Regions from separate parts of the Homo sapiens genome. Here region 1 is linked to region 2. A link means that fine-mapping ties the variant in region 2 to the expression of a gene that starts in the linked region. Tissue or cell type: whole blood. Region 2 holds a variant in brackets; the other region holds the start of a gene. All regions are shown on one strand. Distances are between the middles of the regions.

What was found. PIP is the estimated chance that this variant, and not a neighbour inherited with it, causes the effect.
Region 1: KDM7A starts here. The variant in region 2 is fine-mapped to the expression of KDM7A in whole blood (TOPMed, PIP 0.96).

The regions. Positions count from the first base shown.
Region 1 is chr7:140,175,060-140,180,210 of GRCh38, reverse strand. It overlaps KDM7A (lysine demethylase 7A), which reads left to right and starts at 3,228. Exons shown (of 20, transcript NM_030647.2): 1 at 3,228-3,467. The coding sequence starts at 3,274. It overlaps KDM7A-DT (KDM7A divergent transcript), which reads right to left and starts at 2,950. Exons shown (of 1, transcript NR_024451.1): 1 at 571-2,950. RefSeq lists silencers at 2,820-3,249, 3,290-3,389, 4,030-4,209, 4,220-4,499 and an enhancer at 2,672-3,595.
Region 2 is chr7:140,249,875-140,255,025 of GRCh38, reverse strand. It overlaps LOC107986854 (a long non-coding RNA gene), which reads right to left. Exons shown (of 2, transcript XR_001745386.2): 2 at 817-1,470. Among named protein-coding and RNA genes, the nearest start is that of KDM7A-DT, 75 kb to the right of the region's middle. RefSeq lists enhancers at 2,093-2,162, 2,193-2,242. The variant G/A (reference allele first, on the strand shown) is at 2,074.

The DNA.
Region 1 (5,151 bases), 75 kb after region 2:
GGTCAGGAAATCGAGACCAGCCTGGCCACTACTAAAAATGCAAAAATTTGCTGGCTGTGGTGGTGCACGTCTGTAATCCCAGATACTTGGGAGGCTGAGGCAAAAGAATTCCTTGAACCCAGAGGGCGGAGGTTGCAGTGAGCCAAGATCATGCCACTATACTCCAGCCTGGGCAACAAAGTGAGACTGTGTCTCAAAAAAAAAAAAAAAAAAAAAAGAAAAATAAATAAAAATAAATAAATAAATAAATAAATAAATAAATATCTGAGGCATACAACTGTAATCCCAGCACTTTGGGAGGCTGAGGCAGGTGGATCACCTGAGGTCAGGAGTTCAAGACCAGCCTGAGTAACATGGTGAAACCCTTCTGTACTACAATTACAAAAATTAGCCGGGCATGGTGGCAGGTACCTGTAACCCCAGCTACTCAGGAGGCTGAGGCCTAAGAATTGCTTGAACCCGGGAGGTGGAGGTTGCAGTGAGCTGAGATCGCACCACTGCACTCCAGCCTGAGCGACAGACCCAGACTTCATCTCAAAAAAAAAAAAGAGAAAAATATCTGAGACTGTGTAATTTGTAAAGGAAAGAAGTTTAATTGGCTCATGGAAGGCAGGCTGTACAGGAAGCATGATGCTGGCATCTGCTCAGCTTCTGGGGAGGCCTCGGGAAACTTACAATCATGGCTGAAGACAAATTGCATCATATAGCCGGGGCAGGAGCAAAAGAGAGAGGGAGGAGGTGCCACATATTTTTCAATGACCAGATTTCTTAAGAACTCACTCATTACCACGGGGACAATACAAAGTGGATGGTACTAAACCATTCATAAGAAATCCACCCCCATGATCCAGTCACCTCCCACCAGTCCCCACCTCCAACATTGGGGATTACAATTCAACATGAGATTTGGGTGGGGACACAGATCCAAGTCATATGGATAACCAATCTCTCATTGTTGCTGCTGCCTCCTGCTCTGCTGGGCTTCCTTCTTCATACCCCTGCCTAGTCCCTCCATGTTAACATAGCAAGTCCAGGTGGCCCCCAGAGGACATCCCACAACAGGCTGCTTTGGTGCTCTTTAGCCAGACTCCAACAAGACAGCTTTGCATGCCTTCTCTTCACTGCTGTATTGTCTCGACAACACACACCTTCAACAAAGTACATTTAAAAATACATTGTCTTTTTGCTCCATGTAAAACCTCTGTGAGATAATTAAGGCATTACTAGCCATATTTTTTCTTTCAACAGATCATCAGTGATCTAGTTCAGGAGAAATGGAGTGACTGGCCCGAGGTCACAGATTATAGAAAGCAGGACCTGAGTGCATGGGTCTTTCCACTCCAGCAATATGTGATGCCTATGCCAAAATTACAGTACCTTTTTTTCTCCAGTAGAAATATGTTTCAAGCTTAATCAGTGTGTGGTCAACTAATTTCCAGCCTTTCCTTTTCCCGCTATATATATGCCAAACAGTGATGTGATAGAAAAACGAATAGTTGCAGAATTGAGACACTTAAAAACTTCAGTTACAGCTCTAATATATGAGACTTCAGTCAAGTTACTAGCTTTCCTCAACTATAAAAAGGAGATTAGGCAGGACTTGGTGGCTCACGCCTGTAATCCCAGCACTTTGAGAGGCCGAGGCGGGCGGATCACTTGAGGTCAGGAGTTCAAACAGCCTGGCCAACATGGTGAAACCCCGTCTCTATTAAAAATACAAAATTACCCGGGTGCGGTGGCGTGCGCCTGTAATCCCAGCTACTTGGGAGGCTGAGGCAGGAGGATCCCTCGAACCCGGGAGGTGGAAGTTGCAATGAGCCGAGATCACAGCACTGCACTGCACTCCAGCGCGGGCAACAAGAACGAAACTCCGTTTCAAAGAAAGAAAGGAAAGAAAGGAAAGGAAAGGAAAGGAAAGGGAGGGAGGGAAGGAAGGAAGGAAGGAAGGAAGGAAGGAAGGAAGGAAGGAAGGAAAGAAAGGAAAGAAAGAAAGAAATGGAGAATTAGATCAGCGACTCTTTGCCTGGGGGTGGGTGACAGAACAACACTTCTTCCTCCCCTAACAAAAATTACCTATGGAGCTGTGAGGGCTTTCCCCACTGATAGAAATGCCAGCAGAAATTCAGCTACAAATACTCAATCCAATAATCCTTAACATCACTTCCAATCCACAGTTATGATTCCAACGCAATCTTTTCTATACAGTATTTGTCAGCTGTTTTTATTCTTCAGTTTATCATCTTATATTTGGCTCTCAATTTCACCCATAAATTATTGATGGCTTATTATACGCCAAGTACCCTGCGCTCCGCTTTTTGTGGTATCCCTCTTCGGAGCGAGAAGTCACTTAGAATTTTACCCCATCTTCCCCACTTGGGAATCGGAAGGGTTCATAGCTAAGTTTTGTTATTTATAAGCACGCCGGCTCTTCTCTATCCCTCTCTCCACCAACCCCATTTCAAGGTTGGTCCCTCCCAGCGGACGACAGTGATGAATTCCTCTTGGGGACAGCCCTCCCGCAACTAACGGTGGCTCCATCGACGCTCTGGTCTCCTTGCTGCTCGCTGGGAATTCGGGTGGGACGTTTTCCAAAGTTTGGATTCCACGGCACATTCCTCCCTCGGAAAGGCACAACCGGCTCGGCGTGTCAGCTCAGCTGGACTCACGCCGGTGCGGGGCCGCAGCTCCGGTTCTCGCTGGGCGGCTGCGGAGGGCTGGGCGATTCTCTCAGCGTCGCGAGGCGACCCGGGCAGCAGCAAACTTCTCCGCTTCCCCTCTTCGGGACGCGGCACCTCTTCTGCCCTTGAGCACTCCGCAGGAACTTCCCCCGGCCTCGGCTCTCGCTCCGAAATAACCGAGCCAGCTCCTCGCACGCTCCCGCCGTCCTCCTCCGGCTGCGGCCGCGCGCCCGCCGCCACCGCCACCACCGCGCGTGTCCTCACGGGGCCTCAGCTCCCTCCGCCCCCGCAGCCGCCTGCGTGCCCTTCAACAGCTCCCTCCGCCCGGCCGTCGCGGAGAGGAGCGGGGAGCGCGCGCCGGCGCCAGAGACGTGCGCGAGACGCACGGCCCCGCGCCGAGCGCCGGAAGCAGCCGAGTCTGGGCCTCGCGCGTCGCGCGCGCCTCCTCCCCCTCCGCCAGCCGCCGCGGCCTCGCGCGCGCGCACTGAGGCGCCGCCGCCGCCGCGGCTGCTGCAGGAGGCGGCGCTGGCTGGCGGCTGCGCTCGCTCCAGTCGGCGAGCGGAGTAGCGAGCGAGCGTGTGTGTGTTTTTTAAAGATGGCCGGAGCGGCGGCGGCGGTGGCCGCGGGAGCAGCAGCTGGAGCCGCCGCGGCAGCCGTGTCGGTGGCGGCTCCCGGCCGGGCCTCGGCGCCTCCGCCGCCCCCGCCCGTGTACTGTGTGTGCCGGCAGCCGTACGACGTGAACCGCTTCATGATCGAGTGCGATATCTGCAAGGACTGGTTCCACGGCAGGTAAATAAACCCCCTCCAGCCCCGCAGCCGCCACCGCCGGCCACCGACCAACCGCCGCCGCCGCCGGCCGCCCGCGCCTCCCTCGGGCCGGGCCGCCGCGCCGCGCCCAGCTTTCAGGGGGCCCCGGTGCCTAGCCCCCCGGCCGGGCAGTGGGGCGCGCGGTGCCCCGGGTTCGCCGGGCGGGCTCCAGAGGGGAGCCGGTGGGCTCGCCTGGCCCGGGCGAAGAGTCGCCACAACAAACACGAACAAAGAGGGCCGGCGGATAAGTTGGCAGGGGGAGCCTGGGGCGAGGGGACGCGGCCGGGCGGGCGCGGCGGGGGCGTCGGGCGGAGCGCCGGCCGGGTCCGCAGCCCCTCGCCAGCCCGGGCCGCCGCCGCCCCGCCCCGCCCCGCCGCGCCCGGGGCTCCGGCCGGAGTCGCCGGCCGCCCCGCCGCTCTGCCCGGCCGGCCGACGCGCCTGCCTTCCTTCCGGGCGGCGATGGGGTCGCCCCGGCCCCGCGTCTCCTCCGCGCCGCGGGTCCCTGTCGCGCCCCCTTCCCCGTCTTTATCAAACTTCCTGGGCCAGTGGGACGGGGGCAGCGGCGGGCCGGAGAGGCGACCGCGCCAGCCAGCTCGGCGGGGCTCCGCGGAGTAAACAGAGCAACAGATGAGGCACTCGCTCTCGGGGACTTGAAAGGTGCCGGGGAAGTTGGGGCCGGGCCCCCGGCGGGCGGCAGGTTGACCCGGGTCGCGGTCCTGGGCCCCCGCACACACCCGGGTCGCCGGGACTGGGGCAGATGGAGTGGGTTGCGGCGGCCCGAAGGGAACGCTTCTCCGGACCCCCTGCGTTGCCCTCGCGCCGCGGCTTAAACTTTACAAAGAGTGCAGTTGCCATCGCTCGAAGCTGGCGACACCGGGACCGCCTGCGGCTGTGCCCGGGCGCCGGTGCCGGCGAACTTGAGTCGGCCGGGCGGACGCTGCGGGGCCGGCTGGCGGCGGCGGCGGACGCTGCCCTCTGATTCAGCCGCCGCCGCGCTCCGGGTTTGACGTTTGAGAGCTCGGGCCGCCTCCGCAGCCAGGCCGCCGACTCGTGTGTTTTGTAATCAAAGTGTGAGGCTAATAAAGGGCGGCGCCACAGCCTCTTGACTCCGGCGTGGGAGGGATTCACAGGCATTTAAACAAAGAAACTAGTTGGGGTTGGGCTCCCAAAGTCCTTATTTGGGTGTTGTGGCAAAGCCTGCGGTCACCTTTAGTTGAAGCCGGTTTCCCGGGCCCCGTTTGGTGTTGTCTCTTGGCGAGAGCACGCTCACGAGTAATAGCAGATATGGTGACTGTGATTGTAGGAAGTGTCTTTTGATTGACAGCAGGACATTTAAATACAGCCTCCGCTCCCCCCCTCCCCAATTTTACAGAAACACTACAAGACCAGGCCAGATGTCTTAGTCTCCCTCTACTGGTCCAGGGAGAGAAAACCATGTAAATCACAATGTTCTTTGCAGTGTTTAGTGCTAGGTGTAGTTAAGTTTTACTTAATTTTCAAGTACAGTTTTACTTAATCAGTTTTCAGGCTAGCCGATTCTCACAACAGAAAACAAGACACAGTAAATTATCACTTTAAAAGAAAGGCAGCGTCCTCGTTTCGTATAATCTTTAGCAGTCTTGTATATCCAATTCTATTTCCACATCCTGTTTCCATAACATATTCT
Region 2 (5,151 bases):
TCTTTAGGCTTCCTAATGTCCCAGCTCTAATACCTCTCTACAGCCTCCATGTCCCTCTTCTTTGGATTTTATACTAAGTCCTTTTCAGACACATTATTAGGAACCAATAAATATCTGTTGAGTGATTTCACATGTTAGAGTGCACTTGTTTCCTAGGGCTGCCATTAACCAAGTGTCACAAGCTGGTTGGCTTAAAAACAGTGGAAAATTCTCTCTCACCATTCTGGAGGCTAGAAGTTGGAAATCAAAGTGTCAGGAGAGCTATGCTCCCCCTGAAGGCTCTAAGGGGGAGGGCCTTCCTTGCCCCTTCCTAGCCTCTGGTGGCCCAGGCATCCTTGTCTTACGGCAGCATCGCCCTACCCTCTGCCTTCCTCTTCACATGGTCATATGCCCTGTGTCTTTGCGTCTGTGATATCTCCTCATCATATAAGGACACCAATTGTTAGATTTAGGGCCCACCTAAATTTACATCCATAATGATTGCATCTCAAGATCCTTAACTAATTACATCTGTAAAGGCTCTTTTAAAAATAAGATCAGGCCAGGCACCGTCGCTCACACCTGTAATCCCAGCACTTTGGGAGGTTGAGGTGGGCAGATCATGAGGTCAAGAGATAGACCATCCTGGCCAACATGGTGAAACCCCGTCTCTACTAAAAATACAAAAATTAGCTGGGCGTGGTGGCACATACCTGTAGTCCCAGCTTCTTGGGAGGCTGAGGTTGCAGTGAGCTGAGATCATGCCACTGCACTCTAGCCTGGCGACAGAGTGAGTCTCTGTCTCAAATAAATAAATAAATAAATAAGATCATATTCTAAAGTTCCAAAGTTCTGGGTGGATGTGAGTGTATTTTTTGGGCAGGGGGTGAACACTATTCAACCTGCTACACAGAGCTTTTTCAGTTGCAAATGACAGGAAACCTCATCTAAGGAGCTTAAATAAATGATTATTGGCAATCCTAGCAAAATATATCTAGTATGTTACCCTGAACAATATCGGGCTTTGATGAGGTTACAAGTCCATCTCTAAACTAATCACTGCAGCCAGGCCAGAGGCTGTACCTGAGCTCTTGAACCAGGGGTAGATTCAGTTCCACTGAAAGCACACAGACTGAGGAGATTATTTGCAGATACCATTACCAGGAGAAGGGGGAGCAGGTGCTAGGTGGTAGAAAACGTAGCCACCTGCTAGCATGGTCTTCCTCCACAGTCAGTCAGCTCTTGGGCAGCAGTGACTCTTCTCATATCTGCATTCCAGGGCCTTGAAGAACAGCAGGACTTCAAATAAATATTTACTGAGTTGTTTTTGAATTTTTAACATGATTCAGTCTCCAAGGGCTTCATTCATGGTAAATCTGCAATCCGGCGTCTGATCCAGGGTGAGCCTTCCCCACGGAGGCACTGTCCTTTGTAAGGCCCTTCTAGGTAGACCAGCTGGCCATCTGTTATGTAACCATCCATTCTTCAAAACTTCCATAAAAGAGAAGCAAGAAAGAAGGGTTTGGATCATGTTAGGGTCAAAGAAGGGCAGGAGAGAAATACAAGTGGTAGATGAAACTGAGCATCAAAGAAATACATCCCCACCTTTCCCCTTTGTTCTAACACACACACAAATCTCATTATCTGCAGGGTTGGACTATTGTTACCCTCACATACCCTGGAGTCCTGGTGGAGAATACAGGATTCTGGGTTTAGGCATGTGTCATTCGGTGGTTTAGGCCTGAAATATTGTGCCTTAAACACCCACAGAGGGGCCTTATATCCCAAACACCAGAAGAGCCAATGCCCAGAGGGTGAAATCAGACAGCCCTTAAGCTAGATGAAGCTGGAATTGGTAACCACACTATGGAGTTTAATTTGCTGACCTAGATGTAGTCTGCAGCCCACAAAACCTCATACCACAGCAAAGCTTTTTCTTGTGCTGAGACAGCTGGCTGAGCATGATGTTGCAATGACTCAGTTCTCAGTAAAGGGTCTGAGGAAATTAGGGGCAGGGCTACAGCCCCAAGACCACAGCTCCAAGAGACCTTCCTGTTTATTCATGGGTGAGAGAAGGGGAACCTTCTGTTTGTG[G/A]GCACTGGTATTTCATCAGAAGAGACAAGGCTGGACTCTGGGTTTGAGCTGTGTGTACACAGTCAACACATGACAGTCAGACAATTATACTCAGAGTGAGAATTCATATCTAGCCACATAGGCCAAAAGCATCTCTAAAAGCTGTTCTTAGGCCAGGCGTGGTGGCTCACACCTGTAATCACAGCACTTTGGGAGGCCAAGGCAGGTGGATCACAAGGTCAGGAGTTCGAGACCAGCCTGGCCAACATGGTGAAACCCCGTCTCTACTAAAAATACAAAAATTAGCTGTGCATGATGGTGCACGCCTGATGTCCCAGCTACTCAGGAGGCTGAGGCAAGAGAATCGCTTGAACCCAGGAGGCAGAGGTTGCAGTGAGCCGAGATCACACCACTGCACTCCAGCCTGAGTGAAAGAGCCAGACTCCATCTCAAAAAATAAATACATAAATAAATAAAAGCTGTTCTTAAAACTATGTGAATCAAATCACATTTTTACTTGACTTCCATTTTAAAACTGGACATAGGTTTATATGAGGAGGCCTAGTTCAATAAAACGAGAGTTGAAAACTCTGTGGGCTCGGAGGACTTCCCATTAAACATAGCCGGTTGAACATGTGCATACTCCTGGGCCTCCTCCCAAAACCCCACTAAAATGTGAGGCAAGAGACTTTTTTTGAAAAGCATAAGTCCATAAGAGAGGTAAGAGCAAAGAGAAGGATCAAAAAGATTTTTAAGCTGGAAATTTGAGAGATAATGAACCTCACACACCAGAGTAAAGGGTCTCAAAATGGGGAAGCCAAGAAAACAAGCCAATCCATGCCTCTGAAACACCCCAAAGGCTTAGGAATTGGAGGTACCAGATACTTCTGAAAAGGCATGGCTGCGGCTGAAAACTAGAGCACTGATTAAAAGTTTTCTTCCAACCTGGGCAACATAGTAAGACCCCATCTCTACAAAAAACACAAAAATTAGCCAGGGGCTGGTGATGCACACCTGTGGTCCCAGCTACTCAGTAGGCTGAGGCAGGAGGATCACTTGAGCCCAGGAGGTTGAGGCTGCAGTGAGTCATGCTCGGTCCACTGCACTCCAGCCTAGGCAACAGGGCAAGAAAAAAATAAAAATAAAAAGTTTTCTTAAGCAATAGTTAAGGCTGGGCACGGTGGCCCACGCCTGTAATCCCAGCACTTTGGGAGGCCAAGGCGGGCAGATCACTTGAGGTCAGGAGTTTGAGACCAGCCTTGCCAACATGGTGAAACCCCCTCTCTACTAAAAATACAAAAATTAGCCAGGCATGGTGGTGCATGCCTGTATTCCCAGCTACTCAGGAGGCTGAGGCAGGAGAATCATTTGAACCTGGGAGGCAGAGGTTGCAGTAAGCTAAGACGGTGCCACTGCACTCCAGCCTGGGCCACAGAGCGAGACTCCATCTCAAAAAAAAATGAGAGTTAATCCCTGCAGTTCTTCCCTTAGCCTATGCAACAAGCTACTACTTTCTCTCAGCCTTCATCAGAGACGGACCACTTATTGTATGGGGAGTTTGAGTTAGAGGAACTTTGGACTTAGGAACAACTGAAGGTGGAAGATGAGTATCAAAGAAGGGGGATGAAATGAAAGTCAATGTACCAACCCGTGCTGTCCTCATATTTGACTCCTAGACACTGGCAGACACATTTATAACTATGGGGAGGGAGTTCAGAGAACTCCCATAGGAAACTGACCACCAAAAGAAGAGACATGGAAATGTATCATAGGGGATTCCCCCAAGAATGACTGGCCCCTGTCTGATCACCCCATTCTAAAATCACTCCATCATACATGCAAATCTTTCTTTGTTTTGCTTTGTTTTGTTCTGTTTTGTTTTGAGATGGAGTCTTCCTCTGTCACCCAGGCTGGAGTGCAGTGGTACAATCTTGGCTCACTGCAACCTCCGCCTCCCGGGTTCAAGGGATTTTCCTCCCTCAGCCTCCCGAGTAGCTGGAATTACAAGTATGTGCCACCACGCCCAGCTAATTTTTATATTTTTAGTAGAGACAGGATTTTGCCAGTCGGCCCTGCTGGTCTCGAACTCCTGACCTTAGGTGATCCACCAGCCTCAGCCTCCCAAAATGCTGGGATTACAGGCGTGAGCCACCGCACCCAGCCAATATTGTTTCTTAAAACTGAATATTCAGTGAATAAAAGCATTCATGGAAGGTTGAGCTGTGATAGTAGAAACTAAAAATTCAAGACGTCAGGTGTGGTGGCTCATGCCTGTAATCCCAACACTTTGGAAGGCTGAGGCAGGAGGATCTCTTGAGCCTAGGAATTCGAGACCAGCTTGGGCAACATAGCGAGACCCTGTCACTACAAAAAATAAAAAATTTGTCAGGCATGGTGGCACATGCCTGTTGTCCCACCTACTTGGGAGGCCAAGGTAGGAGGATCGCTTTAGCCTAGAAGTTTAAGGCTGCAGTGAGCTATGATCAAACCACCGCACTCCAGCTTGGGTGACAGAGTGAGACCCTGTCTCAAAAGAAAAGAAGAAAAAAGAAAAGTCAGAAGGTAAAGTTGAAAAAAAAATCACAGAAAGTAGGAAAAAAGGGTCAGAAAATAGGAGAAAGACAGTTAGAAAATCAGAGACCTTCTACATCAATTTAGGAAGTCTGACATTTGAGTAATTGGAGTTCCATAAAGAGAGAATACAGAAAATGGAAAGGAGGAAATAATGTTTTAAAAAATAACAGTAATTCAAGAAAAAAAATTCTAAAATGGAAGACCATATGTTTCTAGATTGAAAGGGCCTACCCGAGTATCCAAGGCAATGAATGGAAAAAAAATCCCCTACCAAGGCACAACATTGTGAAATTTCAGAACAACTATGAATAAGATCTAAAAAGCTTCCAGGATAAAAAAAAAAATAGCAGGTTATGTACTACAGATCAGAAATGGCAATAGCTTTGCTCTTCTCAAGCACAACGCTAGAAGCTGGAATATGATGAATTCAAAGCTAACATGCAAGTGTGAATGAAGAATAGAGACACTTTCAGAAATGTAAGCTTTCAAAATTTTAACCTCCCAAGCAGCCTTTCTTCTTTTATT